Homo sapiens: one gene and its partner. The protein of the gene in region 1 purifies or fractionates together with the protein of each later gene. This does not show direct contact. Each region holds a gene or a part of one and is shown on either strand. Other genes may lie near its edges. The genes, in order: PNPLA6 and SLC30A4.

Evidence for each region.
Region 2: the proteins of PNPLA6 (region 1) and SLC30A4 purify together in Homo sapiens (co-immunoprecipitation; one large-scale study listed by IntAct). This does not show direct contact.

Annotation. Positions count from the first base shown.
Region 1 is NC_000019.10:7,556,112-7,559,932, reverse strand, and holds part of PNPLA6 (patatin-like phospholipase domain-containing protein 6), read right to left. Parts: intron 3,481-3,821; coding exon 3,364-3,480; intron 3,279-3,363; coding exon 3,209-3,278; intron 2,766-3,208; coding exon 2,649-2,765; intron 1,084-2,648; coding exon 782-1,083; intron 1-781. UniProt on the Homo sapiens protein: Phospholipase B that deacylates intracellular phosphatidylcholine (PtdCho), generating glycerophosphocholine (GroPtdCho). This deacylation occurs at both sn-2 and sn-1 positions of PtdCho.
Region 2 is NC_000015.10:45,505,598-45,509,418, forward strand, and holds part of SLC30A4 (probable proton-coupled zinc antiporter SLC30A4), read right to left. Parts: intron 3,414-3,821; coding exon of another isoform or gene 3,352-3,413; exon of another isoform or gene 3,261-3,351; intron 1-3,260. UniProt on the Homo sapiens protein: Probable proton-coupled zinc ion antiporter mediating zinc import from cytoplasm potentially into the endocytic compartment. Controls zinc deposition in milk.

The DNA of each region.
Region 1 (3,821 bases):
CCTGACTTCAAGTGATCTGCCCACCTCGGCCTCCCAAAATGCTGGGATTAAATGCATGAGCCACCATGCCTGGCCCTTTCTTTTTCTTAGAGACAGAGTTTTGCTCTGTCACCCAGGCTGGAGTGCAGTGACGCAATCATAGCTCACTGCAGCTTCAAACTCCTGGGCTCGAGCGGTCCTCCCACCTCAGCCCCCTAAGTAGCTGGGGTGACAGGCATGCACAACCACACCCAGCTAATTTTTTATTTTTAATCTTTGTAGAGATGGGGTTTTGCTATGTTGCACAGGCTGGTCTTGAACTCCTGGTTTCAAGCAATCCTCCCACCTCAGCTTCCCAAGGTGCTGGGATTACAAGCATGAGCCACCATGCCTGGCCCCCTGATCAATTTCAATTGGCTTGGGCTATGGCACATTTTTCAGGGTCAGTAGCACATAACACACGCACTGCTACCTCCCTCTCCTGGAACTGTGGCAGACATTTCTGCTTCATCACTATTCTCATTCCCACCAATGCAGAAATGGCAGTAGAAATCACTATACAGTGCTTCCAGGGGTGCAGCTGGCCTATAAGGAGAAAGTTCTTACACAGCACATGCACAGCCACACCCCTACTACATCCCCTGCAGACATCACCAATTGATCACTGATCTGTTTTCCAGAGATTCCAGATGGGATTCCTGGATTCCTCCTGGATTCCTCCCCCTCATACCACTCTGGGCTTTAAGTAGCAAAGCTTAGCCGGACCACCTATGCAGGCACCATGCCACTCCTGCCCACTCACATAGATCTGGTCGAACTTCCCAAAGTCCATGGTCTTGAAGCAGTCGATGGGCGGGCGCAGGTACTCGCAGTAGGAGCTGGACTTGACAACCTCTAGCTGCCGCACACAGGACACGTAGGCCAGGCGGGACTGGATTTCAGCCATGTCTGGAACCTTTACCTTGTCAGCCCAGGGATTCAGCCGCTTCCACAGCAGCCACCAGCCGGACAGGCTGTCCCCGTAGGTGCTGAGGTCCGTCTCATCCTGGCTCCCCACGTCAATGGCGATGACCGTTTTGGCACCCATGCTGCGGGCGATGTCCGCTGTGGGGCCAGGGGGGTCAGCGGGCTGCTCCCCTCGGGGGCCCGGGGCAGAGATGTTCAACCCAGTCCCACAGATGCCATCATGCAAATGATCACGCAAAAAAAAAAGAGAGAATACCCACACATGCAAACACCATGCTGTCATGCACAGACGTGCAAATGATGCAACTGAAGTTGAGGAGGGGGGTCAGGTGTTGGGAGGTTTTGTTTTATTTTCTGAGACAGAGTCTCACTCTGTCGCCCAGGCTGGAGTGCAATGGCACGATCTGGGCTCGATGCAACCTCCACCTCCCGGGTTCAAGCAACTCTCTTGCCTCAGCCTCTCAAGTAGCTGGGATTAGAGGCATACACCACCACGCCCAGCTAATTTTTGTATTTTTAGTAGAAACCGGGTTTCACCATGTTGGCCAGGCTGGCCTCGAATTCCTGACCTCAAGTGATCCACCCGCCTCAGCCTCCCAAAGTGCTGGGATTACAGGCATGAGCCACTGTGCCCAGCTCAATAAAGCTTTATTTATACAATCAAACAGAGGGCAGGACTCAGCCTGTGGGCCATAGTTTGCCCACCCCTGGCCTACAAGATTGTGAGCATGTGTGCAGTTGGCGTACATGTCTGTTCATATATGCACACTTCTGGGGTGTGAGATTTTAAGTTGTGTACCTGCCCGCTTCTCACCTGCACCCATAAAGGTGGTAGGCATGACTTAACTCGGTCAGAGGTGCCGCATCCTATCTACGTGTGTGCACATCCCTGCGTGTTTGAGGGAACGTGCAGGACAAACGGGACAGACTGGCATGCGTTGGCAAATGCCCTATTTCACTGACACACGTGTTCATCTGTGCACATGTGCCTGTGTGTACACGTGTGTGTAAGCCCTACCTGCCCCTGAGAGAAAGCATGTGCATATATAGCTGGTGTGCACACGAGTGTTGCATTCCACCTGCATGTCCCCTGATGTGTGTGTGGACGTGTGCACCTGTCCCTCTTGTACGTACATCCACTTGTGCTTAACACAGCACGCCAGCAGGTAGATGTAGATTTCTTTCTTTCTTTTTTTTTTTTTTTGAGACTGAGTCTTGCTCTGTCGCCCAGGCTGGAGTGCAGTAGCATGATCTCAGCTCACTGCAACCTCCAACTCCCAGGTTCAAGTGATTTATCTGCCTCAGCCTCCTGAGTAGCTGGGATTACAGGCACACCCCACCAGCCTGGTTAATTTTTTGTATTTTTAGTAGAGACGGGGTTTCACCATGTTGGCCAGGCGGGTCTCAAACTCCTGACCTCAGGTGATCCACCCACCTCAGGCCTCCCAAAGTGCTGGGATTCCAGGCTGAGCCACCGCGCCTGGCCAGAATGTAGATCTCAACTGCACATGTCGCTGTCCACAGGCACATTCATGTATCATTTTGTGCAAGTGATCGTATGTGTGCGCATGTGTGTCTGCACCCCTGCATGGGCAGCTTGGGCATGTGTCCCGTCATCGAGCCTGTCTGTGTGTGCCCACGCGTGTGCGTGTGTGTGGTGCGGGAGGTGCTTGCGTGTGCGGGTGGTGCGGGCGGCCACTTGCCTGGCAGATTGTTGATGTAGCCGCCATCCATGAGTAGGTGCCCGTCCTTGGGGTCGCACAGCGGGGGCAGGTAGCCCGACAGCGTCATGCTGGCGCGCACGTACCGCCACAGGGAGCCTGCGCGGTGGGACACACAGACACAAACACGCACAGACACGCTCAGACACGCCGGAGGCCCAGCCGGCCCGATGGGCTCGCTGACCTGGGACGTTGTTAACGTAGCACCCGTCCACCAGCAGGTGCCCGTCCTTGGGGTCGCACAGTGGGGGCAGGTAGGGGCAGTAGGAGGCGCTGGCCCGGACGTAACGCCACACACAGCCTGCGGGGATGGCGTGAGGGGGGTAAGGCGTCCGACGAGTCTCCCTGCTCCCCTCCCCCAAGGACGGACGTACCTGGGGTCTCCGGGGCATTAGTGGGTGGCGGTTAGTGGTCGGTGATCGGGCCAGGGTGGACGGTCACTCGTGTTAACAACGTCCCAGAAGCTCAGCGGCCCTCCCGGAAGCATCCCCCCAACCCCACGTGGCGTCAGCGGTTGCTGCAGGCTGGGCGGGGACACCCACCATCTTTGTGGACTCGCATGGCTGAGGCGGTGATATCTGTGGTCACGTTGAAGTAAGGCAGCCACAGGTCCTGCGGGGACAGGGATCGAGGTGGGGGAGGAGCAGGGGGCTCCTCCGGGGAGGGGTAGGCAGGGCAGGGGATGAGGTGGGCCTACCTCAATCTGCTTATCCTGGAAGACCCGATGGATGCTGCGGTTAAAGGCAGACCCAGTGAACATGGAGGTGACTGGGTACGTGAGGTCCAACACAGGTTCCAGCACCGAAGTCATGCTCTAGGGACAAGGGGCCAGACAGGGTCAAATAGGAGTTACATGGGGTCACAGATAAGGTTCATCAATAGGGGGTGAGCAAGCAGCACTTAGGGGCCAGGTGCAGCGGCTCACACTGGTAATCCCAGCACTTTGGAGGCCAAGGCGGGCAGATCACTTGAGGCCAGGAGTTCAAAAGCAGCCTAGCCAACATGGTGAAACCCCATCTCTACTAAAATACAAAAAAATTTGCCGGGCTGGTGGGGCGTGCCTGTAATCCCAGCTACTCATGAGGCTGAGGCGGATAAATCACTTGAACCTGGGAGGTGGAGGTTGCAGTGAGCCGAGATTGTGCCACTGCACTC
Region 2 (3,821 bases), on another chromosome or scaffold:
TTCAAACCAGAAGCTTCTATGTACTGTTATAAAGTGATCTGGAGGTGGAACTCTATATAGAATCACTGCCTCCAGGTCTAGAGTTGAGTATACAGTATACTGCCTATTGCATAAAAAAGGGTGGTGAGAAGCAGGATATGAACATATATATGTATTTGCTTATGTTTTCAAAAGGAAGTGCTGGAAGGATAGGCTAGAAACCAATTAAAAGGGTCTACTCTTATGGAATGGTATGGGGAGATGGAGTGGAGGGGAATGAAAGCAAGACTTCTCTGTGTTTTCTTTTAAAAAATAATTTTTGGCCAGGCATGATGGCTTATCTCTGTAATCCCAGCACTTTGGGAGGCCGAGGCGGGTGGATCACTTGATCTCAAGAGTTCAAAACCAGCCTGGGAAACAGGCTGCAGAGTTTGCAACCAGCCTGGGAAACAAAGCCTCGTCTCTACAAAAAATACAAAAGTTAGCCAGGCATGGTGGTGCATGCCTGTGGTCCCAGTCCCAGTCCCAGCTACTCGAGAGGCTGAGGTGGGAGGATTGCTTGAGCCTAGGAGGTCAAGGATGCAGGGGGCTGAGATCACGCCACTGCACTCCAGCCTGGACAACGGAGTGAGACCCACTCTCAAATAAATAAATTAATAAAATAAAATTTGACTTTTGCAACATGTTTTGCATATTTACAAAATAAATCAACAGAGAAAAAACCCATCCCTGTCCCACCCCACCATGTCATCAAAACAAAACAAAATTCAACAAGAATGGTAACAAACCAAGCTTCTTGTGGGGATTCCCTCTGTGAAGTTTTCAGGACCTGAATCTCCAAGTCTGGAATTAGAGATCACAAGAGCTACCCTACTTAAGTGTGTCCAAATGTAAATATATCTCTCCCCATAGAACTTCAAGAGATTACTCTGAAGCAATGGTACTGTGGAACTCAGGGACACCAACTGCTTTGGTTTACAGCTTTATTCATCAAATTCTATGTATCTTTGAATCTTCCTCAAGCAAACTAAGTTTTTTCTTCCAAATTTCCACCATTATTTCATAGAGCAGAATAAGTGAAATAAGGTCTATATCTAGATATCCCCTCATAATATTTCAGAATACAAAACAACAAAAAAAAGAAGATCCCAAAAGTTTCAGTGTGAAGCTTGAGTACCTTCTTAGCTCAGGAAATACCTATCTATCTATATCTTTAACAATTCCCTCCCTTTCATTTTTTTAGATGACTTTTAAAAATTGACATAAAATTCATGTAACAAAATTCACCATTTTAAAGTGTACAATTCAGTGGTTTTCAGTACATGTACAAGGTTGTGCAGCCATCATCACTACTAATTCCAGAACATGTTCAACACCTCAAAAAGAAATACCATATGCATTAAGTGGTTACTTCTTTTTATTTTTTAAGTTCTATTTTTCTGAGGTTCTTAATAGTAAGGCTTGGCTGGGGGCGGTGGCTCATGCCTATAAACCCAGCACTTTGGGAGGCCGAGGCGGGTGGATCACGAGGACGGGAGATCCAGATCATCCTGGCCAACATGGTGAAATCCCGTCTCTACTAAAAATACAAAAATTAGCCATGAGTGGCGGCGGGCCCCTGTAATCCCAGCTACTCTGGAGGCTGAGGCAGGAGAATCACTTGAACCTGGGAAGTGGAGGTTGCAGTAAGCCGAGACCGCGCCATTGCACTCCAGCCTGGGTGACACAGTGAGACTCTGTCTCAAAAATAAATAAATAAATAAATAAATAAATAAATAAATAATAAATTTCAGGAATAATTTTAATTTCAAAGAGCTATTTCTTGTATTTATTTTTCCAAAACATTTTACTGTTTTATTATTCTGAGCATATTAATAAGATAATTTAAAAACTTTTCTCCTGGTTCTGTTCTTTTCTTTTTCCTTTTTTTTTTTTTTGTCTCACTCTGTTGCCCAGGCTGGAGTGCAGTGGCTTGATCTTGGCTCACTGCAACCTCCACCTCCCAAGTTCAAGTGATTCTCATGTCTCAGCCTCCCATGCAGCTGGTATTACAGGTGGGCACCACCATGCCCAGCTAGGTTTTGTATTTTTAGTAGAAACAGGGTTTCACCATGTTGGCTAGGCTGGTCTCAAACTCCTGGCTTCAAGTGATCCGCCCACCTTGGCCTCCCAAAGTGATAGGATTACAGGCATGAGCCACCATGCCCAGCTTCTCCTGGTTCTTTAAGTTACTTCTCTTTCCTTTAGGGTTAATTTTTCTATTAGTTTAGTTTTGGTCATTTTAATTCATGGTGCTGGTTTTTCCCACATGCTGGAAGATTCTTGGTTGTCTATTCATACTTAGGGCAGAAGGATAGGGAAACTATCCTTTGTAAAAAGGAAATGCTGGAAGGATAAGCCAGAAATGAATTGAAATAATATTTTTTGGTAGAGACAGGGTCTTCCTATGTTGCCCAGGCTGGTCTCGAACTTCTGGGTTCAAGGGATCCTTCTGCCTCAGCCTCCCACAATGCTAGGATTGCAGGCATAAACCACCATGTCCAGCCTAAAATGGTTATTAATATGGGGTGTAGGGCAGGGCAGAGGATAACTATATTCCTTTAGGATGAGTAGGTGGAGAATCAGGATATGAGGTGGTAGAAATCTGAATTCTGGTAAAAGTAAGACTTATTTTGGAGCATCAACTTCCACACTAATTCTTAGTTTTCCCTGAACATTTTGTTCAGTTTCTTTCTAGAAGAACTATGTGGTGTTTTACTTGGCGGAAAGTGTAGGCTGCCTGAGTAGAGGTAGGAGTAAGAAGGGAGGTAGGGGCATAGTGACCACTGGGAACGGCTTCCCACTTATTCAATTAATCTTCCGTTTTCAGCCCCAATTCTCATTTCTGCTCATCTCTGTCCCTAAGCCTTAAGATCTGTTGGGCTGGTCCAGTTCCTAGTTCAGAGTATGTTCTACACATTGCTTCTTGGCTTGTTTTCTCCTTCAACCCACTCATATGTACTTTACAACTTCCAAAAATTTCTGGAAATGTGTTTACTGGTAACCCAATCATGTAATTCTCTTTGGTGTTTTGGTACCTCTATGTTTTTATCTTAATGGACTCTCAGAGAGACAGGAATCAAATGGTGCTGTCTGGTCTACCTTCTTGGAACTTAGTACTTTTAAGGAAAGGGAAAGATTTGACTTTCTATAGAAAATTCCAGAGACACAATAGGACCGGTCAGTTCTATTGTCTCTTATTTTTACATAGTATTTATTTATGAAGAAGCAAAGTGACTATGTAGAACAAACACTAAGTACTTCTTTAATATTTAATAGAAGTTTCATTATTATGGGTTCTTAACTTATATGTGTAGCATCTTCTGTGTTCTGTTATTGCATGTTTCTGAGGGAGTGTTTCACTGCTTTCATCAGAATTCCAAAGGGTTTATAACCTAAAAGAGTTTAAGAACCACAGGACTATATAAATGTACTCTCTCAAGCAGTGTTAAAAAAATTCCCATTCCATGATGATATGTTTACATCTTAGATCTTAACTGCAGGTGTTTAAATCTCAAAAAAATTAATGTTTAAAAATAATTTTGAAGCTGTTTAAAAATCCTAAGGCAACCAGTAAACAAATGACTATATAATATGTTGAGAAGCAGTGGAGTTTCCTTTAGGAACACATTCTTTTTTTTTTTTTTTTTTGAGAGAGACAAGAGTCTTACTCTGCCGCCCAGAATGGAGTGCAGCAGCATGATCTAGGCTCACTACAACCTCCGCCTCCCGGGTTCAAGCAGTTCTTCTGCCTCAGCTTCCTGAGTAGCTGGGATTACAGGCGTGCACCACCATGCCCAGCT